Homo sapiens: one gene and its partners. The protein of the gene in region 2 purifies or fractionates together with the protein of the main gene of each other region. This does not show direct contact. Each region holds a gene or a part of one and is shown on either strand. Other genes may lie near its edges.

The links.
Region 1: the proteins of LRCH1 (region 2) and PIK3C2A purify together in Homo sapiens (affinity purification with mass spectrometry; one large-scale study listed by BioGRID and IntAct). This does not show direct contact.
Region 3: the proteins of LRCH1 (region 2) and TMEM38B purify together in Homo sapiens (affinity purification with mass spectrometry; one large-scale study listed by BioGRID and IntAct). This does not show direct contact.
Region 4: the proteins of LRCH1 (region 2) and DSTYK purify together in Homo sapiens (affinity purification with mass spectrometry; one large-scale study listed by BioGRID and IntAct). This does not show direct contact.
Region 5: the proteins of LRCH1 (region 2) and TMEM131L purify together in Homo sapiens (affinity purification with mass spectrometry; one large-scale study listed by BioGRID and IntAct). This does not show direct contact.
Region 6: the proteins of LRCH1 (region 2) and ABCB8 purify together in Homo sapiens (affinity purification with mass spectrometry; one large-scale study listed by BioGRID and IntAct). This does not show direct contact.

What each region holds. Positions count from the first base shown.
Region 1 is NC_000011.10:17,089,531-17,092,986, forward strand, and holds part of PIK3C2A (phosphatidylinositol 4-phosphate 3-kinase C2 domain-containing subunit alpha), read right to left. Parts: intron 2,747-3,456; coding exon 2,629-2,746; intron 2,539-2,628; coding exon 2,466-2,538; intron 2,127-2,465; coding exon 2,017-2,126; intron 1,930-2,016; coding exon 1,804-1,929; intron 391-1,803; coding exon 208-390; 3' UTR 1-207.
Region 2 is NC_000013.11:46,551,861-46,555,969, reverse strand, and holds the start of LRCH1 (leucine-rich repeat and calponin homology domain-containing protein 1), read right to left. Parts: upstream 2,801-4,109; 5' UTR 2,574-2,800; coding exon 2,267-2,573; intron 1-2,266. UniProt on the Homo sapiens protein: Acts as a negative regulator of GTPase CDC42 by sequestering CDC42-guanine exchange factor DOCK8. Probably by preventing CDC42 activation, negatively regulates CD4(+) T-cell migration.
Region 3 is NC_000009.12:105,693,168-105,697,340, reverse strand, and holds the start of TMEM38B (trimeric intracellular cation channel type B), read right to left. Parts: upstream 2,801-4,173; 5' UTR 2,681-2,800; coding exon 2,569-2,680; intron 1-2,568. UniProt on the Homo sapiens protein: Intracellular monovalent cation channel required for maintenance of rapid intracellular calcium release. Acts as a potassium counter-ion channel that functions in synchronization with calcium release from intracellular stores.
Region 4 is NC_000001.11:205,163,203-205,166,702, forward strand, and holds part of DSTYK (dual serine/threonine and tyrosine protein kinase), read right to left. Parts: intron 754-3,500; coding exon 521-753; intron 1-520. UniProt on the Homo sapiens protein: Acts as a positive regulator of ERK phosphorylation downstream of fibroblast growth factor-receptor activation. Involved in the regulation of both caspase-dependent apoptosis and caspase-independent cell death.
Region 5 is NC_000004.12:153,584,860-153,588,359, reverse strand, and holds part of TMEM131L (transmembrane protein 131-like isoform 1 precursor), read right to left. Parts: coding exon 3,429-3,500; intron 2,903-3,428; coding exon 2,749-2,902; intron 2,152-2,748; coding exon 1,981-2,151; intron 619-1,980; coding exon 549-618; intron 1-548.
Region 6 is NC_000007.14:151,038,450-151,041,949, reverse strand, and holds part of ABCB8 (mitochondrial potassium channel ATP-binding subunit), read right to left. Parts: intron 1,683-3,500; coding exon 1,649-1,682; intron 1,453-1,648; coding exon 1,316-1,452; intron 1,123-1,315; coding exon 1,028-1,122; intron 852-1,027; coding exon 718-851; intron 1-717. UniProt on the Homo sapiens protein: ATP-binding subunit of the mitochondrial ATP-gated potassium channel (mitoK(ATP)). Together with pore-forming subunit CCDC51/MITOK of the mitoK(ATP) channel, mediates ATP-dependent potassium currents across the mitochondrial inner membrane.

The DNA of each region.
Region 1 (3,456 bases), on a different chromosome or scaffold from region 2:
CCAAAAATTCAAAAAGGTTAGTTATGTGACTGTTGGTCCAACAGATGTGTTGAAATGCAGCAAGTATATTTAACTTTATAAGTTCTGTCCAAGTATAAAAATACTATACAAAATTAACAAGTGTGTGTGTGTGTGTCTGTGTGTGTGTGCATGTATGCATGCACGTTTATAACTGTTCATGCTTCCAAAGCTCAAACATTCACTAGTTTACAAGTATGTTGCCGCAGTCAGCTGATACCATTTAACCGTCTCTTTGCTCAAGTTGAAATCTTTCAAAGGCAGGGTTACTCCACCCAAGAAAAAATTCTCCCGCAGAGATTCTGCACTGAGTACACTTAGTTGAAGTTCTCGCTGTCTTAGGGTTTCTTTGCTATATCCACTGTATACAAGCTACAACAAAGGAAAAAAGAACAGTAAATCACAAATTAAAGTTTGTTTGGTTTCTTGGAACATTTCAAGTGAAAACGTGAGAATATTAGCCAAAGAGTGACCACAATGAGTGACACTGATTATGACACATCCGGTAGGTTTTGTCTGAATACTTTAGAAGGACATTTTGTGTTTCAGGAGTCTTGGATTGTACTATCATTCCTGTGATGTCTGACATAGAGAGATACAAAGCAAGACTAATCATTAGCTAAAAAATAAAAACTAGAGGCCAGGCATGGTGGCTCACGCCTGTAATCCCAGCACTTTGGGAGGCTGAGGCGGGTAGATCACCTGAGGTTGGGAGTTTACAACTAGCCTGACCAACATGGAGAAACCTGTCTCTACTAAAAATACAAAATCAGCCAGGCGTGGTGGCACATGCCTGTAATCCCAGCTACTCAGGAGGCTGAGGCAGGAGAATCACTTGAACTCAGGAGGCGGAGGTTGCAGTGAGCCAACATGGCTCTATTGCACTCTAGCCTGGGTAACAACAGCGAAACTCTGCCTCTAAAAATAAATAAAATAATATAATAATAATAATCATCTAAGAGGTGGAGTGATCTAAGACAAACTGAATAGTCTGGAAGTAATTAAGCACAGACTAGACAACCACTTTTTGTGACTATTATAGAGGGGGGTTCACACACTGGAAACGTAGTTGAATTATGGCTCCTAAGGTCTATGAGGGCTCTATTTTATATCATTTTGTTAAATACTATTGGACTGTTATTGGTGTACACTGTATAACAAATAGTTCAGCAACTGATACCTAAAAACTTAAAATTTTTTTTTTTTTGGGACAGGGTCTCTCACTCTGTTGCCCAGTCTGGAGTGCAGTGGCATGATCATGACTCACTGTGGCCTTGACCTCCTGGGCTCAAGCAATCCTTTGACCTCAGCCTCCCGAGGAGCTGGGATTACAGGTGCGTGCCACCATGCCTAGCTAATTTTTTTCTTTTTTTTTTTTTGTAGAGATGGAATTTCATCATGTTGCCCAGGCTGGTCTCAAACTCCTGAGCTCAAGGGATGTATCCACCTCGGCCTCCCAAATTGCTAGGATTACAGGCATGAGCCACTGCGCCTGGCCTTAAAATGTTTTAAAATTTAAAATCTCAAAACAATGGACACAGAGAAGGGGACAACACACACTGGGGCCTGTTGGGGGATGGGATGGTGGGAGGGAGAGCATTAGGAAAAATAGCTAATGCATGCTGGGCTTAATACCTAGGTGATAGGTTGATAGGTATGCAGACCACAATGGTACGTTTAGCTATGTAACAAACTTGCACATCCTGCTTACGCACGTCAGAACTTAAAAATGAAAATTAAAAAAATAATAAACCAAGGAAACTTCTAGAAATGATTTTAACTTACCATTTCATTGAATGTCGGATTCCTCGTTTTTCGTGAAATTTTGGTTTTACGTTTGGATGTTTTGTGGTTATCTGGAAGTAGGTATGTTTTGACATATGGATTTGGGTCAGCTCCATCTTCAGTAACCTAAAAAGAAAAGCAGTCCCTTAATAGTAATGCTTCCTACCAAGGTAAGGGTTTCCTCTACAACCATCATTCTTTGTAATCACTCACAAGATCTTTGATATGCATCACCATGATGAAAAGAGTACCATTTCGGTAAGAGATGGATAATTTCACAGCTCCTCCTATTTGGCCTGGAGTAGGACTGAAGGAACCTGCATCTGAAAATACAAATATTTTCATCTTTATTTACTGGTTGTAGTGGTTCAAGCTGCAATAAAAGGATTTTGCTTTATTTTCAAGACTGTCACATGTGGTGCGGACAGAAGGGAGGGGAAAAAGGAGTAAACAACCTGATAGGTCATTGATTTATACTTCTTTAGTAATCACATCTATTAGGAAAGTTATATTTATTCAGAAATAGACTGGCTTAGAAAGAATACTCTCCTCCCATTCTCAGACTACAGCTAGTAAGCCTGCTGTCATTCTACCACATTCATCGAGAAGTTACAGACTTGCAGATCATGAGTTACCAATAAAGAGAAAAAAAATAATCTCACCTGCAGACCTAGCTATCCCTTCAGCTTTCTCATCACGAAGTAAAGGGTGGAAGAAAGTACAAACAAGATCACACTAAGAATAAAGAGAAAGCAATTCATTAGTTTAAATATTATGTAACACAAAAGGTATAAGATGTTATTACTTCTCATTTAGTAAGGTTACCTCTGCTACATCCGTTGAAGCATTCATCAAACTCTGTAAGTAACTGTTTAACTCAATTTTCCTTTTGGCTGCTACATCTTTTATGTGTGTTCTTCCTAGAACCATCCTATTAGGAAAGCTACAAAAGAAAAACAAAAACAAGTGGGATTTAAATAAGTACAATATTTCCTTAGAAATACACTTTTTCATATATACTTAAAGACAAAGTAGTCTTAATCCATTATAAAGTAATATTTTGTGGCCGGGCACGGTGGCTCATGGCCTTTGGGAGGCCAAGGCGGGTGGATCACTTGAGGTCAGGAGTTTGAAACCAGGTTGGCCAACATGATAAAACCCTGTCTCTACTAAAAATACAAAAATTAGCGTGCTGATGCCTATAATCAGATACCTATAATCCCAGCTACTCGGAAGGCTGAGGCAGAAAAATCACTTGAACCTGGGAAGCGGAAGTTGCAGTGAGCCGAGATCACTTACACTCCAGCCTGGGTGACAGAGCAAGTCTCCGTCTCAAAATAAAATAAGTAATTTTTTGTGATTTCTCTTCAAAGTATTGGAGATGACATCGTTCAGTCACCCATTATCCTTTTATGAGCCTTGGTTGAAAAGGTGTATGTGTTGATTTCCTATATTTATTATTAGCTTGGTGCAAAAGTAACTGTGGTTTTTGACATTAAAAGTAATGGCAAAAAACGCAATTACTTTTGTACCTACTTAATACTTATTTTCTAATATTTCTTCTCAAGTTTAATCACTCATAAATATTTTATCCAGATCTGATCCCTAAAAAATAAAATCACTACTCAATCAGCCATAAATATTACATATACC
Region 2 (4,109 bases):
CAACACTGTGTACACCGGAGGTAACTTTAACTCTTTATTTTGCTTTCTGGTCTCTCAAATAAGAAACTGTGCTCAATTAAATTTATCTTTAGAACAAAGAGTACATGTGGTTTACACCTAGCTTTTGACCTGAGGCAAAGACGTTTTGCAGAAGCAAATATTTAATACATTTGGGTATTCTAATTTCATGTAAAATAACTAGCTGCAATGAATACTTTTCTGATGGGGTTGACTTAAGTTTCTACAAACATGAATATCCCTCCACTCCTCTTCCCCCAAATAATACTGTATTTTTGGATGAGGAATTAACATAAAGCCTCTGAATTTTAACCAGTTAGATTTTCCTGAGCATAAAACATGTGCAAGTGAGCTCATAAATAAAAACCTGCAAAACTCACAACTTAAGCTTGCCATAAACAAGCCAACAAGAACACTTTCAGCATCCACTTCACATGGCGAGGTCTTAGCTAAAAGATGTGATCCCTAAAAGCACTGGTCTTCTCAAAGAAATGCCAACACAGCAGACACATCAAGTTCACCTAACTTTGTAAATAATCCTTAGCATAACTGAAGTAGAACAACTATGAAGCCCCCTTACTGAACTACACAAACCTATTATTATTAGTCATGCCAGCTCTATTTTCTGCAGATATAGCCAACCATAGCATAGCTAGCTCACGGTACACTCTATAGCAGAAGGGAAGTAAAATTTAATGTAGTTTTTTAAGTCAGTGATTCAGGCAATTCTTGGAATAAGTTCCACTTGAGAAGATGTAACTAAGAGGTCTTATTGAAAGACACTCCCCAGCTGTTGACAGCTCAACTTTGGAAATTCCCTCTTTTTTGCCGATTCCTGACTATCCCTAAATCCAAATTACAAAGTTTAATGACCCTGGAGAGCCATCTTTGCCTCCAGTGAACTCAGAACTGTATCTAAATATTCATTAAGGCTCTAGATAAATGTTTATTGAATTAAAAGGGGGAAAAGACACTGGAAACCTAGCCTCCAAAAACCCACTGCCTGCTCCCTTGCCCACTACAAGATTAAACTGGGTGCTCCTGTGATGAGAGTCAACCCATCCAAGACCCAGGGGGTCTGACCCTGGGCCATGAGGCGATGACAGCCAAGAGGTCTGGGCAGCGGCTCCAAAACGGAGCACCCACTGCCCTGGGAAATGTTGGGCGCTTGCTATGACACAAACCCTCCCCCAGGGAGCGGAACCGGATGGCCGGAAACCAAGTCAGTTCTGTATAGACCCTAAGGCCCCAATCCTATTCCACCACCCTCCTTCCTGTTTATAGATCCCGCTCCTGGAACTCCAACTACCAAAGAGAAAGCAGACGTTTTAGAAGTATGTAACACATGACGTAACTTGAAAAAGTTATGCTGCTTATTGGCGCGAGTTACAACTTGCCGGGCTCACACAGGAAAACAGGCTCACGTTAATTACTTTGCCTTTAATATGCCACGCCGTCCTTTCCTGGGGCCCCCGCAACGGTTGGGTAACTGAGAACCAGGTAGCCTCGGTGGTAGGACCCAAACTGTGTGGGCGGTGAGCAAAAGGCACGGAAGGAAGAGGGCCGATCGCTTCCGAAGCGGCAGCCGACTGGGATTCACTACAAGCCCGGCGGCTCTTTTCCCGCACAAGCGCAGGGAGAGGAAACTTGGGCACCTCACAGGCGGCACCGAGTTGCCCGATCGCTCGGCGATGTCGCCGAGGGGGCTCGCGGCACTGCGCCGATGCCCCTGGCTCGGCCGAGGGCGTGCCACCTTTGTCTGGGTTTCCCCACCAGGATGGGCTACGCCTCGATGCAAAGACGGCTTGAACTGGTTGGAGGCGCCGACGCCGCTGTCCGCGCTGGAGTTCCCAGCCCTGCGCGGGGCCCAGGAAGCCGACACAGCCGCCTGAAACCTCCCACTTACACTGCGCGCACGCGGCGCGCCTGCAAGTCCCAGCCCCGCGGTTACTTCCCTGGCGCGGCAGCCACAGGGTGGAGAGCCGGAGACCCCTCGCTCTCAGGCGCAGAGGCCCGGCGCACCCCTGCCCTCCTGGCACTGCATCGCCGGACCAGGCAGGGCCCCCGTGCCCTCTCCAGGGCCCGCTTCTTCCGCGCCCACGCGAGTCCCTTCTTCGGGAGACAACGGGCCGATGGACCCTCCCTCCCCCAGCAAGACAAGATCTCCGACTGTCCACCGCGTTAGGGAACGCACGACAGACACCCAGACAGCACCCACACCCCTGCCCGCCCCTCGGCCCTCACTCACCTGCCTGCACCGTGTCCGAGAGGTCGTGCCCGGGGGCTGCGGTACGGGGAAATTCCTTCAATTTCCTGGCGCTCAGGTTCAGCCCCCCGGAGTTGGCCGCCTCCTCAAGCGCGCGCTCCAGACCCCGGTTCAAGGGCAGGTTGAAGCCCCCGCTGCCACCGCCGCCACCACCCGCCCCGCCGGGGGCGCCGGTTCCTCCGTGGTGCTGATGGTGGTGGTGGTGGTGGTGGGGATGATGAAGTGGGTGCAGAGTAGCTACCGAAAGGGCCGGGACGAAAGGTTGGGGTTCGCTTCCCGGCGTCGCCATCTTCTCCCGGGCCCCCCCACCCCGCCCCGCCGCTCCTGCGGGGGGGTCACAGCGTTCCCCGCGAGGGGAAAACGGCAGCTCGGGCTGAGTGCCGCAGTGCTCCACCGAAAGGCGCTGGAAGGAGGGGAGGAGGGTGTGGGCAGGCGCGTAGAATGGGGGGCGGGCGGGGAGGCGGCCGTGGCAGCTCGGTCTTGAAGGTTTCCTGTCCCCGGGAAGCTAAGGACTGCGGCGGCGGCGGCGGCGGCGGCAGCGCGCATGTGTCTCCTCCCGCCCCTGCGCCCTCCCCCCGGCTGCTCTGCCCTCCTCCGCCGTCTGCTCTCTCCTCCTCCTTCCCCCACGCAGTCTGCCCCGCCTGAGCCTTCCTCCGCGCCTATTCTGCCGGCCGCCGCCGCCTTGCCGCGATCCGCCCCGCAATCGGGTACACGGCGGGGCTGGACGTCTGCTCCGGGGCAACTGAGGCGCCGAACCTCTCTCTGGGCGTCCTTTTGCCGCCCAGGAGGCTTTAGGGGACTGGAGGTTGCGGGGATAGGGGGGTGGTCTGAGAACACGGATAAAACGGCGGGAGGCAATGAATGGGATTTACAGTACAGTGAGGTTTGGGGCAGGAGAGGGTTCTCTCAATTCTGCGATTTATTCTGGCCGTTTAACCCAGAGATCCCCAAGAGGCAGTTTTCATTCACTATGGGGTCATCCCTGCAGATGCCCCCTGGCATTTGGGCGCTTACAATGAACCAGACGCTTGTTTAGGGAGTCTACGTAAGTTACCTCATTAATCCAGGGACCCCAGGAGTGCCAAAGTTGTTCCCCTGAGTCTACAGAGGAAGTTAATAAATGTATCTAAGGTCACCCCTGCAGTTAGAGGGGCGCTAGATTCGAGCTAGGGCCCTCAGAATCTAGGGTTGCCCTCCTTCACAGTGTACCCCTGGGCCAGACGCCAGCGCCAAGGGACGAATACGAGTGGGACAGAGTGTTTGCTGAGCGGCAGAAGAAAGCTACAGACATAGGAAAGAAAAACTCAAAATGAGGGCAGTGTTTATGGGGGACAGAAGACATTGTCGTAGGAGAAAGATGAGCTGGCTGCTCCCCGAAATTGGGTGGTGCCAGGAGAGGCTAGAAAGCCAGTGACCCCAAACAGCAAATCAGTCACAGCTCGAGTCTGAGCTGAAAGAACCATCGAAGTCTCCTTGTGCCCTTCTTCTTCCCGCTTTGGGGCATGGAAACGAACATGTCCGCTTGCAAGTGAATTCACATTCTGCCATCAGCCACCCAGTGGCACCCAGGCCAATGCTGGCACACCAGGGGCGACAGAGAACATCTGACACCCTAAGGGCAGACCAGCTGGACGATTAATAGAATACCATTCCTTTCCTGAAGTTAAAGCTTCATGTCCAACTTTCCAGGGCCTTTATTTTTGCTCTATTCTTAAGGCTTGATTGTCCCCTATGAGCGACTTGGCTTGGGGAAAATGAGTCGGGGGGTGGGTGCGGGGTTGTCGGGGTGTCAAGCACGAAAGTAATGCAACCCTTGGAGTAGGGG
Region 3 (4,173 bases), on a different chromosome or scaffold from region 2:
GGTACTGTATGATACTATATAAGTATTCAATAATCACGTGGTTCTCAAATTATGGAATCTCAGGAGCCCTCTACATCCCTAAAAATTAGTAAACAGATTAATGCTTGCCAAGGATAGGGGACAGCTTACACAAAAGTGCAGGAAGGAATTTAGGGTGGGTGAGGAAACCGTTCAGTATCTTGATTGTGATGGTAGTTGAATGACTGTATGTGTCTGTCCAAAAACACAGAACTTTTTATTAAAAATGGTGAACAGATTCTATGTGAATTACATCTTTTAAAAAATCGGACTTAAATTTCTTGACAACCCCAAAAGGTTTTGTTTATGTTGGCTACAAGTATCAATACTTAGCATCTTAGAAATTATAACTGAGAAAATTTTAAATAGTTGTGGCGGCTAAAGCAACTCCAACATCCGCCATGTTGACTTATGATTAACCCCAGTTCTGGGATTGCCTCTAAGATTTATATTTTATCTACTGTTCCTTGTGTAAAAGTATACACTTACCGATCTTGCCCTTAGGTCAAACAACCTTGACGCTATTTCACTTACCATAAATCCTGCTCTTAAGCAACTGTCCTACACATCTCTGGTTGGGGGTTGGGGGTCGGGTAATGGGGTGATCCACCATCTCCTTGGGGCCACCCAAGACATGGCTTCTGTTCTTAAGTCCCTTTTAAAGGTTTCTTTCTAAGAAACTGGATTCCTCAGCCTCTCAGCTTCCTCAGCCTTTGGGGATAGGACTGCATAGACCTGTCCACTATGCAACAATTGTTCTTCATGTTTTCATTTTTTAAAAAGTAAATGTATTAAATGTTAACATAAATAATGTATTCTTCAAGCCTGGCCAACATGGCGAAACCCCGTCTCCACTACTAAAAATACAAAAATTAGCCGAACTTGGTGGCAGGCGCCTCCCAGCTACTCCGGAGGCTGAGGCAGGAGAATCGCTTAAACCCAGGAGGCACAGGTTGCAGCACTGAGCCGAGATCGCGCCACTGCACTTCAGCCTGGGCGACAGAGAGACTCCGTCTCAAAAATAATAATAATAATAATGATAATGTATTCTTTATGAAAAATAACTTTTCCAAAACAAAAAACATTTAGTGAGAAGAATCACACTGTGTACATTCTAACAAATGTCTGGCTTCAAATAGAAAACTGTTAGATTCTCATATCTACTTCCTTCTGTTACAGTATCACAACTCAGGTAGCCTCTGGAAAACTCCACTGTACACTTCTGAAAAAATGAGAGTGAAAAAGATAACATCTGCATATTATTACGAAAGTAATTTTAAACTGGCAGTGTCAGAGAATCCCATGGGTCCCTGGACCACAATGTGAACATCTGATTCAGCCTATACAAAAAAAAATTTTTTTAATCAAATTCTGAACATGTAGTAGCAACAAAACTTACTTTTTTCAAATCAAAGAAATAATATCTTATGCAGATAATGTGTTCTACTTTAATGCAGTAATACCATCCTCATCCAGGTCAAAATTTGTACCAACGATTTAAACTGAGCTACAAACTTCAACATAAATGAAAAATATTTCTGAGGTCTAAGGATTTTTTAAAACCAGTAAGTAGTCCATAAGAAAGATACAGCATCATCCTCCAGACCTCACTCATCAACTATCCGTAGGGCAAGGCAGATGAAAGACAGCAAGAACACAAAGAAAGTAGGCAAAGAAATGTCTGACCTCAAAGAAAGAAGAGGTCCATACAACTAAAAGCACAGTAGAATAACTACAAAAGTAAAGCAGTATTAGAGCAAACGCACCCTGGTGTAAAATCCAATAAAATACAACTACTGTCCCTTGATCGCATTGCTAAAAGAACTCAAAATGCTGTTTCAAGACTATATCCCCATTCTGCAGATAGTGAAACTACGCCAGGTAACTCTTGCTTGTACAGTGTCCGTCGTGACTGTGAAAAGGGGAACGCACTCGCTTCTCACATGCTAGGCAGGGTGTTAGGACACTGCGTGAAGGGGAATCCTGGTCTGGCTACAGGAGGCTTTTTGTTTCAGTGCTTGTACAACTTTCATAACTGGAGAGTAGTCCGCAACCATCTATTACTCCAAGAGACTGAGTCAGAAACCTGCTGTCTCCTCACATGACTTTCAAACACTGCGAGCGAGTGGCGACACTGCGAGCGAGTGGCGACACTGCGAGCGAGTGGCGGTACCGCGAGGAGGCCGCCCAAGCCCTGGGCTGGCGCGGATATCTGTGGTTCCGAAACGCTGCGGCAGCTTCTGTCAGTCCTGGGACTTCTGCGGGCGGTTGGCAAGGTCGGCCCTGCTCGCCCAGGCTACGGCCTCGCGGACCCCAGGTCACGCCTCCTTTGAGGAGTACTAGAGCCTCCGTCCTCCCCCACGCTGTTTCCCCATCTGCACTCAGTAAGTCAGACCAACCGGCCCTTGGCGCCCCTCCAACTCTACCATCGAACTGTCTGGGCTAGCGGCCACTCAGCCGCCCACCCGACCCACCCGACCCACCCGACTTAGACGGTCCTCGCCGTCAGGAGCACTCTGAGGGGTCCGGCCCGCGGCGCCCCGCACTCACCCGGCTGACGTTTCACCGCCATCACTGACACTAGATAGTGCGCGATGTCAAAAAAGGGAAACATGGACGTGCGGGAGAAGGCCAGAGCCAACTCGTCCCATGGAGAATCCATAACGACCACCGACCGCGGCAACCGAAGCAGCCGCGGCTACTGGTTCCCCGCGCTCGCGCGGTGAGGAGTAGGAGAGGGCACAGCCGCGGCCGCCCGCTCCTCCGCGCCGGCTCCAGCTCCGCGCGTGCGCCCTGGCGCCGAGGGGGCGGGGCCGCGCTTCGCGGGAGCCGCAGGCTCACCGGCGCTAGGCGGGTGGGCGGGGCGAGCGGGTTCCCCGCGGCTCCAGCCGGCTCTTGCCTCGGTTCTCCTAGTAAGGGTCCAGCGTCTTCTTGGTCCTGGGCGCAGTGCAGGACCTGGAGAGCGTGCAGATGAACAAAACACGGTCCTCAAGGGGAGACGCTCAGAGTTGGATTTATTTCTGTAAATTGATGTCATTCACCTAACATTTATCGAGCAACCACAGTGCAAGTCACACTGTGACTTACTGGAGATATAAAAATAAAACAATAATATCCTGACCTCAAGAACTATGCGTTCCCTGAAAGAGATTTTTTATAAAAAGAGAAAAAACGCACATAATGGTACAAAAGCAGGTACTGAGAAGTATAGCTGCCGTGCGAGAGCAGTTCGAAACGAAGATTACAATTCTGGGAAGTGAGTAAAGTGACATGTGAGCTGGACTTTAAAAGTTAAGTGAGAAACACAAGCTAGGTGGGAGATGGAGGGAGGTGTTTTGGGTTGACTACAAAGTGAGAAATGAGGTTGGGAAAAGTCCTCGAATGGCAGACAAAGCCAGGCAGTTTGGCTCCAGAGGTTAAATTCTTGATCAATCACTATGTTAAGCTCAGAGCCAGAATCTCTTCTCCTAATCTCTACGCTAACTGGGTTGTTTGGTGGAAGGTGAGGGAGTAGAGGTGCAACGAAGCAACAAGATTAAGAATAGATTGATGAGAAGCGACTGACAACGGAAAATCAGAGGGTATTCACTGGTCCAAGCAAAAGGTAGTGGAGGCTGTGGCAGCAGAAATTGAGACCAATTGTGGGAAACATGGGTAGAAGCAGAATATCGTCAGTGAGTGTCAGTCTGTACAGGCGGGAAAGGAAGCATTTGTCAAATAAAATGAGGAACGGGTGAGTAGGAGGATTGTGGTTGCATTCTGATAAATAGGAAACAAGAAGGAATAGGTTTGGGTAAGAAAAAAAACTAGCTTGGCACACTTATTTGATGTGTGAACAGATTATGCTGGCACCAGGAAATTGGAGAAACGTGATTAGCTGCTAGGTAGGTGACAGCTTCACGGGTGTATGCACTGCAAAAGGAGAATTTTTTTTATCTGAATATGTATTCATTAATTTTAATTCATTTAACAAAATGTTTTTTGCGTGCCTACTATGTAACCAGCATTTTGCTGGATGTCAGAAATACTGCCCTAAACACTAAGTGTTTAAAACGTAGGAAAATTGTAGTAAATCTCTACACTTCATTACTTATCAAGAAAGAATAGACTTGTTCAAATACTTTTCACGTGTGGTTTTCTAAGCAAGCACTTCCC
Region 4 (3,500 bases), on a different chromosome or scaffold from region 2:
ATCAACTTATTTTTTTATTTTTTTTTTTATTTTTTAGACAGAGTTTCACTCTTGTCCCCCAGGCTGAAGTGCAATGGCGTGATCTTGGCTCACCGAAACCTCTGCCTCCCAGGTTCAAGCGATTCTCCTGCCTCAGCCTCCCAAGTAGCTGGGATTACAGGCATGCACCACCACGCCCAGCTAATTTTGTATTTTTAGTAGAGATGGGATTTCTCCATGTTGGTCAGGCTGGTCTCCAACTCCCAACCTCAGGTTATCCGCCCACCTCAGCCTCCCAAAGTGCTGGGATTACAGGCGTGAGCCACTGTGCCTGGCCTATATTCATCAACTTAACTGCAGTTTTACAGCTCACCAACATCTCCCACAGGCAGTGGTCATGTGACAGGAAAACAAAATAAAATTCAAACAAGATTCGCAAGAAGCTGAAAGGGAAATTCTTGCCTAATTTGAAGTGTGGACTTGTGCAGATTTTTCATGTGCTATCTATGACACGATGTCTTAAAAATCATTCTTTGTCTACCTGTTTGAGATAATTACTGGTGATGTGAACTGAGACATCCTGAGACTTCTCCAGGCTCTGCAGACATCGTTCCAGGGTTCCGACGAAGCTTTCCCTCAGGTAATCCACTGAGCTGATCAGCTTATTAGCCACTGCCTGATTAAGTCGGGAGATGATGAGTTCCTGGATCTGTCGGATGCAGCATTTGATCTCTCTGGTGCCTACTGGTTCTCCATTCTCAGGGACAATGACGTCTATGGAGGCAGAGAAATAAGCTGAATAGTTGTGAGGAAGAAGGGGCAGACACACTAAATAAAGTCATCTCCCAAATCAGAACCATGGAACTACCGTGATGATGATGGCTGCAAAAAGACATGATTCGTTGATGATGTCTAACTCTCACAATGATCAGGGGTCACGTAACCCTCAACTACTAAAGGCAGCTAAGATCCTGAGAAGAAGCAATTAAGTCCAGGTGCAGTGATTCACGCCTGTAATTCCAAAACTTTGGGAGGCTGAGGCAGGAGGATTGCTTGAGCCCAGGAGTTCAAGATGAGCTTGGGTAACAGTGAGACCTCATCTCTACAAAAAGTAAAAAGATGAGGCAGGCGGGAGGATGGCTTGAACCTAGGAAGTAGAGGCTACAATGAGCTGTGATTGTGCCACTGCACTCCTGCCTGGGTGATGGGAGTGAGACCCCGTCTCAAAAAAAAAAAATAAATAAGAAGCAATAAGTCTAGAATGAGACTGTTGATTTTGTTAGCTTTTTTTTTTTTTTGAGACGGAGTCTCGCTGTGTCGCCCAGGCTGGAGTGGAGTGATGCAATCTCGGCTCACTGCAAGCTCCGCCTCCCGAGTTCAAGCCATTCTCCTGCCTCAGCCTCCCGAGTAGCTGCGACTACAGGCACCCGCCACCACGCCTGGCTGATTTTTTGTATTTTTAGTAGAGACGGGGTTTCCCCATGTTGGCCAGGATGGTCTCGATCTCCTGACCTCGTGATCTGCCCACCTCGGCCTCCCAAAGTGCTGGGATTACAGGTGTGAGCCACCGTGCCCGGCAATTTTGTTAGCTTTTATGTCACATTTATAGGAGGGGAGGAACAACATTTATGAAGTGCAAACTATTTGAAAGGCACTAAAATAAGGATTTTACACATGTAATCTAATTTCATCTTCACAATAACTTTGTTACATGGGTATTATAGATCAGGAAACAGCCTCAAAGAGAGAACAAAGTAGACATGGGAAGGGAATAGTACAGTTAGGAAGTAATACAGCCAGCTTTTGAACCCAGTGCTCATTATTCCAAATCCTATGATCTTTGCAAAATTTCACACTCCCTAGCATATTAATGAGAAAAACCCAAGAGTCAGGAATTGTATTCTATGTTTTGTTTTGTTTTGCTTTTTTTGAGACTGAGTTTAGCTCTATCGCCTAGGCTGGAGTGCAGTGGCACGATCTCGGCTCACTGCAACCTCCGCCTTCTGGGTTCAAGTGATCTTGTGCCTCAGCCTCCCAAGTACCTAGGATTACAGGCACCCACCACCACGCCAGACTAATTTTTGTATTTAGTAGAGATGGGGTTTCACCATGTTGGCCAGGCTGGTCTTGAACTCCTGACCTCAGGTGATCCGCTCACCTTGGCCTCCCAAAGTGCTGAGATTACAGGCATGAGCCATTGCCGCCGGCCAGGAATTTTATTCTAATCAATTACTAGATAAATAAAAAGTAAAACTCAATTGTCCCCACCATGCCACACTATCTCTTAGGATTAGAACATCTATTAATGTTGTAAATCAGAGGACAGAAGAACTTGAGAGAAGTCAAACTACTTGCAAAAAGATGTGCTCCTGAAAAGGCACTCTCATGTCTACTGGTGGAAACTTAAATGGGTGCCACTTCTTCAGAGGAAATTTGGCAATATCTATTAAAATGTTCAACCAACCAAGAAAAATCTACATACCCTTTGATCTAACTATTTTGCTTCTAGGAATTCTTTTTCTTGAGATATACCCTTACAAGTCCCAAGGTGTATATGTACAATGATGATTAATGCAGTACATTTTGTATTAGCGAAAGAGAAAATAAAAAATAAACAAATAAGCCTGGCCAACATGGTGAAACCCTGTCTCTACTAAATACAGGTATGATGGTGTGATGGTGCACACCTTTAGACCCAGGTGTGATGGTGCACACCTTTAGACCCAGCTACTAGGGAGGCTGAGGTGGGAGGATTCCTTGAACCCAGGAGGCGGAGGTTGTAGTGAGACTAGACCAGGCCTCTGCACTCCAGCCTGGGCGACAGAACAAGATCCTGTCTCAAAAAAAAATAAATAAATAAAAATAAAAAACAAAAACAAACAGCTTAAATGTCCACCAATGAGAGAATAGTTCAATAAATTCAGGCATATCCATTAGAAGAAGACAAATTTGTATGAATATTTATGGAATGCCCTCTAAGATACATATTAAATGAAAAAGACAAGTGCAGAAGAACATATGGAGAAGAACTGGGTGGCTGGGGGATGGTGTCTTTATAACTCTGAGTTAAGTACTATACATATAGGTTTTATCTTAAAAATAAATTTTATAAAGTGTGAATATCATGATACCTAGCACATATGCATTGTCTTTATTTAAAAACAGACAGTAATAGTAATCTGGCTCAACGCTGGGCACGATGGCTCATACCTGTAATCCTAGCACTTTGTGGGGGCTGAAGCAGGAGGATCGCTACAAGCCTGGGCAACACAGCAAGACCTCGTCTTTACAAAAAAAAAAAAAAATCTGGCTCCATAGAATATGTGCTAGCTTGCTTCTAAATCTTCTTATTGTTTCAAGGATACTCAGAAAGCACTTAGAACAAGGTAAGAACAATCGGATACTTTACTGTCTGCCCAACCTAGCTGTCCTGACCTCCATTCTGTGTAATATGATGCCGGCAGTGATGCTCTGGTGTCTTTAATCAAATATTGAGAAGACTTCCTAAGATTTCCACTGCA
Region 5 (3,500 bases), on a different chromosome or scaffold from region 2:
TCTTTAAAAAAAAAAAAAAAAACTATACTTTAAAACTCTCCCTAAATATCTCTATAAATCAAAAGACAAAAAAAACAAAAAAAAAAACTCAAAACAAGAAACAGCTTGTACATCAACACTAAGGCCCTTCAGTCTCAAATCACAACTAGCACCATCTGCAAGATGTTTACACTCCTATAACTTAAGTCCTCAAATACAATTCCAAGTTATTTTTACTAACTTCTAGTCAGTTCTTTCATAAAAGAATCAGAATCTTCCAATTTTTCCTATGGGTGCTGTGATGATCGAACAATGTTATTTGAAAAAAAAAAAAAAAAACCCTTGCGGAAGTACAAGCTACTAGATAATAAAGGGGCATTATTTACAGTACCCCAGGTGTTTCTGGAGGGTTCTTAACAATTTTAAGTCATTCTGTTAATGATCATCCTCTCTATAGAATATGATGCCTTTACAGAACTAATTATTCCATTGACAAATGCTAATTTTCCTCACTATTTCCCATCCCCCAAACTAGAGATCTACAGAAAGCCTAAGGGCAAAATACTTACCTGCTTTTGATTTTCCCATGAAATAATGCATGCCACAATGTGCTATCACTTCAAAACCCAGACTCCCTTCCTAGATTGAAAAGTAATATATGAATAACTTAAAACACAGCACTAAACATAAAAATTCTAATGCACTAAAATTCAAAGCAGACATTGGTCTGCACCTCAGTGAACTTCCCTTTAACCACGAGCCAAAAATTACTTTCTAATTGTTAAGGAATTTTCAGAGAAATCTGAACTGTCTCTCCCTAGGAGGGTCACTGAGTGGCTTCTGCAGGCACAATAATCAATGACAATAATGACCCTTGGGCCCACAAGACACCAAACTGCCATCTGAATTAAATAAAGATTATGATCACATGGCTGCACTGAAGCCTGGGCAACAGAGTGAGACCCTAACTGTAAAAAAAATTAAAAATTAAAAAAAAAAGATTAGATTAGTCTCAGGACATTCTCAGTGGTCAGAAGTTTTGTTTTTTTTTAATTGAACTCTAATCCTCTGGGAAACAGTATGCCAATCTATAACAACTCCTAGCTATTCAGGACATTTAATTTCCCATTTCCTACAGGTATACCTGAAACCTGCCTGCTCCTCCCACACTCTGCTGACATGCATCTCTTGAATAGAAAAAAAATTTCTAAGAAACCACCCCTGCTCAAAATATGGATAAATGGAATTAACCTTACATTGTTTAATTTTAGAATTCCTATCTGTACGCTTACAGCTAGTTAAGCATGAGGCATTTCTAACTATGAAAGATCCACACTATAAGTGAGAAAAAAAATAAAGATGGTTGCATGAATGTTGCATAGAAAAACCAGAACCCAGAGTTATACAAAATAGCTTGGAGCAAAAAGAAGCAAAAATAATAACCAAATGAAAAGAAATAAATATTAAAGAAAGAGACATATTTAAGACGGTCTAAATTAAATATAATTTACCCAGATTTTAGAAAGCATTTTCTTAACTGTGAATCTTTTCAGGCTTTATACTTGGCCCACTAAGCAAATTCAAGGATTACGAGCAACTAAGAGTCACTTAGAAGAGATCCAAATAAAGCATTTAACAATTTAATTTATTAAGTCATTGCAAGTATGTACTAAAAGCCAACCTGTGTTTTCTATAGCAAACACATACTGGTTGCTCTACAAATTTTGGAAATAAATGAAAATGACATCTATTAATCTATTGGTCATGCCTTATTTCATTCAAGAACTTCAAATTACTTTATAAAAAAGAAAACTCTTTCCAAATAAAGATTTTTATGTCTGAACAATTTATCATCCAAGACTGGCCTGGTAATATCCTTCAGTTTCTTAGCCTTAAAGAACGTGAGCTTAACCCAGTTAATAAAACTCAAGCACTAAAGGTTAATAAAAAGCAACAGTAATTAAGAAAACTGTAACACACATATAGTATTGTAGAAAATACCTTGGTTGGTGCTGAATAAATCTGTAGAGGTATTGCAAAAATGGCACCTATGTTTGTAGTCAAAAATACATTGGTGAATAGATTTATGGCAATGTCTTTAACAGCAAGTTTCAAAGAAAATATATTCCAACAGCCTGGAGGTAGAAATAAAGGGCCAGTGAAATTCAGAATCTAAAAAGAAAAGAAGCAAGAGAAATTACTTTTCCTAACACTAATTATGATTAAAATCATTATAAAGTATGATGCTAACATTCTTCTATACTTCAGAAAGTATGATTTTACTCAGTTATTTCCAGATCAAAAGTTGGAATATTTTTATAGAAATGATAGGTTACAAATAATGCTTAAGATGACACTGTTTTAAATTTCACAAAAGTAATCTTGAAATTTCAGTAAGTGATATTTTGCAAAAAACCTACTATTTTATCATGAACCAGGCTCATTTTTACTAATCTTTTTAGAACAATACATATACATAATATTTTTGAATAATGGTAAGAGCAAATAATTTTGAAAGGCTATATCCTGGTCCCTTTGAGCTCTTTTAAAAACAGTTTTTTAAAAAGAGAGAAAGAGAAGTCTCCTAAAAGTAATTCTGAAAATGTTAAAAGAAAAATACATGTTTTAAAAATCATAAAATTTTATATAAATAATAACTTCATAGCATTTGGAATATTTTTTATTATTTTATAGAAATAATTTCACAGCATCTGACCTTAAACAAAGCTTAAAATAAGCTAAAACTTGGGGAAAAAATACTATATGTACCTTTAACATGTGCTTGGTCTCCTTGGAAAGAAACACATCATTTAATACAACACTACGGTCAAAATGGTTGCGGTACCATATTGACCAAAGTCCTGATGTGTTCTCATGAGTCTCTATGTGAAACTGGGTTGCAGAAGAGTCCATTCTAAAATACCTGTGAACAGACGACATGCATGCTATCAGGCCTGAGTGTGGGACAACAGTCAGCCCTCTTATGAGCCTCTAATTGCAAAAACAGGAGCATCATAAAACGTTACTAAATGAAAGCTAGCGCCAGAGACAACCTCGGCAATCGCCTCCTTCAACCTTCTGGCTCACATAGGGAGCAACTGGAAGCCCGAGGGGAAGCAACCAGGCTGCGGCCAGCACAGCTCACAGAGGCCGCCAGGACCAAACCAGAACCTGAAGCCAACTCAGAAACACCATGTGAATATGTACTCTTTTCACACATCTGGATGCCTGATGCTGAACCTATTTCATAAACTGAATTATTTCACTTCCTTTTCCCCACTCAGCTAATATCCCTTTCACTGCCTGTTAGCAATGCTAAGGCAAGGGGAGGCAAGGCCAGTGAGAGAGAGAATCACACAAATCATATCACTATATTTTTAAACCATTTCTAGAGGGGAAAACAACAACAACAACCATACAAGATTTCAGGGAAAGTGGAAGTAACCTACCCCTGAGCCACAGAAGAGAAGAGGCATGCTTTTAGTGTTGGAGTGTGTGTTGTTTTCTTCACATCTTCTATA
Region 6 (3,500 bases), on a different chromosome or scaffold from region 2:
GGGTTATGGAGACAGAGTCCATAGAAACATTCTCTTTGCCCCAGAAACTGGAGGGGCCACCATACACAATGGGACAGTCTATCTGGTGGATTAGATTAGGATCTCTTGAAGAATCAGACGTTCAAAGTCAGAGGTGAAGTGAGGATGCAGAGTGGCCCCCAAAAGGGAAGGACAGTTCGACTTCCTACCAAGGGCCCAGAATCCCTCCCCAGGAGTGGGAGTGGGAGGAGCTGGCAGGGCAGGGCGCTGGGAGTTGGGGGCTTGCATTTGCCTTTCTTCTGCACAGGCACTCTCCCTGGCGGACAGCAGGCATGCCCTCTTCATTCACGGCCCTCAAAGGGAAGGGTGGACCCTCGCTGGGCAGTGCCACCTCAAGCAGAGGGAGAACGGCTGCAGCTCAGCACCTCCACTATAGGCTTCTCTAGACCTGGATGCTATGGGATTTGCAGAGAATCTGAGGGATTCCCCATCTGTGTAGACTGCTGTAAATGCGGACAAAGCGTCCCTGCTCTGGGAGACCAGGCAGAGCTGTGGCTGCTCCCACGACAGGGATGCCTCACCCAGACAACAGCTGAGGACATGTGAAGACGGCCAGGGTCTCCCGAGAGCAGCAAGGATGAGGGTGGGAAAGAAAGAAAAGGCACCTGAGGACTAAGGGGGCAGGGCCCAGGGGAGGACGGGCAGTGGGAGCCAAGGGCTGCCCATGTGGCCCCGCACCTGGCTGATGAAGCCGACAACCTGGCCCCGGAGCCAGGAGGGGTCAAGGGTGCGCAGGTCCCGCCCATCCAGCATCACCACGCCTGCCGTGGGGTCGTAGAAGCGCTCCAGCAGGGAAGCCACGGTGGTCTTTCCTGGGGAATTGGGTTGAGAGGGAGGGAGGCCAGGGATTCTAGGGATTGTCCCAGGAAAGAAGGCCCCTTGTGGCAGTGGAGGAAGGGACCCCACCGGGGGCTCACTGCTCCCGGCCTTGCTCTGAGTGGCTGCTAGAGAAGAGTCAGAGGGTGAAGAGGTGGTGGGCTCCCCTTACCTCCGCCAGACTGGCCCACGAGGGCCACGATCTTGCCAGGGGGCAGCGTCAGGGTGAAGTCTTTCAGCACCTCGAAGCCGGGGCGGCAGGGGTAGCTGGGAGGAGCCGAGAGACCCCCAGTCAGACCAGGCTCCCAGCCCTTGTTGCCCGGGTCCCTCCTGAAGTCTCCCTGTAGCCCTCTGAGAGGGCCTGTTTATGGGGGACATTAGTCCAGACCTCCACCCCCGAATCCACTCGCCTCATCCCCGGCCCAGGGACCCATCCCCACGCCTGCTCACCCGTGCTGACCTGAAGCAGACGTTCTGAAATGTAACGGAGCCACGCAGCTGCTCTTTGGGGACGCAGCAGCCCCCAGACAGTGGGATGCAGGGGTTCAGGGCCATGTACTCAAAGACCCGGGCACCTGCACTCAGCCCCCGGACCACCTGTGGGAGGGGATCCAAAGTCCGCAGGGAGGCAGGAGTAGGGGTGACAACAGCATCTCCAGGGAGTGGCCATGGCTCTGGGCTGGGGTCTCCCCAGCTCCTCTGCCCGCCCACACCCAGTCAATAGGCAGCTCCCACAGCGGCACACACGGCACAAACTCCACACCCCAGGCCCTCCACCCTACCGGCCACTCACCTGCCCAAACAGGACAGAGAGGTTGGCCATGGACCTGTCAGAAAAAGGAGAGAGGGGTGGAATAGATGGGAACAAGAAGAGCCAGAGGAGGGGAAGGAAGCCACGGTGGGGCGGGGGAGCAAGGAAGCAGGTGGCCTGTGGCCAAATGCAGAGACTGCTCCTGCACCATGGGGGCGTAGAGCCCTGGGACGTAGCAACACCAGATCGCTGAGCCCTGGCTCCCTCCTTGGCCAGATGAGGATGACAGCTGTCCCTCAGCTCAGCCCAAGCCCCTGGGAGGGGGTGCTCCACGAGGAAATGGAAGTGAAGGCACAGGCCTCTGTGGGTGTCCTCCAGTGCCCTGGCCTGTGGTCTGCAGGGTGAGGCCTGTGCACACATGCAGCGGTGATATCAGCCCACGAGGAAGGGAGCCCAGCTGACCCACGGACTCCCTGCTCGGCCCTGAGGATGCGGAGGCCGCCACCATGAACAGAGATCAAGGGTGCGTGGCTTAGAAGGGGAGAGCAGATCTAATGCTGCAGACTCTTGGGGAAGCAATGACTTTGGCAGACATTTAGGTGGAAGAAGTGATGTTAAATCTTTTTGGAGAAAGAAGAAAACAGAAGACACTGGGCCACAGGGGAACTCTCAGGAGACCCCAAAACAAAATTCCCTGAAAAAAATTTTTCTCATGAGCTTGCCCTGCAGATAAGTATACCCACAGTGTTATCTGTCTAGACAGTGGGTGGCCTCCTTCGTCCCGGCAGGGCCGGGGTAGGGCTGGCCGGCTGCCAGGAGGCTGAGGAGGAAGGTGAGTCACTGGTCCCTGACTGGCCTGGCTGACCTGTGACAGTGTGTGTATGCCTGGTCCCCTCCTAAGTAAGAGGAAAGACTGACTCCCCAGCAACCCTTCAGCTGCAGACTCACTTCTTCCAGCACTAGGGTGGGGGTGAGTGGGAGGAGCCTCGAAACCCAAAAGGAAAAGGTCCCAGTGGACTCAGTGCAGTCAGCACTTGCTAAAGGCAGCCGGGGGAGGCACCAGGCAGGAAGGAGCCAGCCCAGCCAGCTATCTGTTGATGAGCAGGGGCACATTCTCCACCAGAGATCTGGAAGACATTAGGGCCTGGCAAAGGGGCTGGGCAGCAACTGAAATTCAAAATGCACATGACTCATTGGAGTGTGATGACCCTGCTCTCAGGGGCCGTGGGCTGTAGGCTACGGGCCTGTTCCCAGGTGGAGCCTGGCCCTGATTCTGATGAGGCGGCTGGGCCCCACTTGCTGTCTGTCTGGGCACCTCCCCATCTCCATCAGGAGTACTCAGGATGGGCTCATAGGTTAGGCTGCCTGAGGTAGGCCGGGCCATCCTGCTCCCCTCTCTCTGCTAGACCCCAGTGCCAATGCATGGGCCCTTGGCTTAGCTGGCAGGACCCTGTGGGAAACACATCAGCTGCTTTATGCAACAAATCCAAACCCCCAAGATGAGTGGGGAAGAATCTCCACATAGGCAGCGCTAGAAGGACCTCCAAGAGGATGGGTCTAGGGCCTGTGGCTGTGGGAGCAGCCAGCGAAACAGCACAGACAAGCCCCTGGGGGTTCTTGTGTGTGTCATAAAGCTGCTGGATGGCCAAGCAGTACGGTGGGAGGTAAAGTCAGAGTCTCAGGCCCTAAAGGGGAAGTGGGGGTCCCGAAGCGGGAGGGTTGGGGCTGGACAGTGCAGCCACCCTCCCCACAGGGAGACTGTCCCACCACTGCCCACCACAGAGGGCTAAGGGGTGATTTTATTAAGGGAGCCACTGGGCTTCTTTTTTTTTTTTTGAGACGGAGTCTTGCTGTTGCCAGGCTGGGGTGCAGTGGCGCAATCTCAGGTCACTGC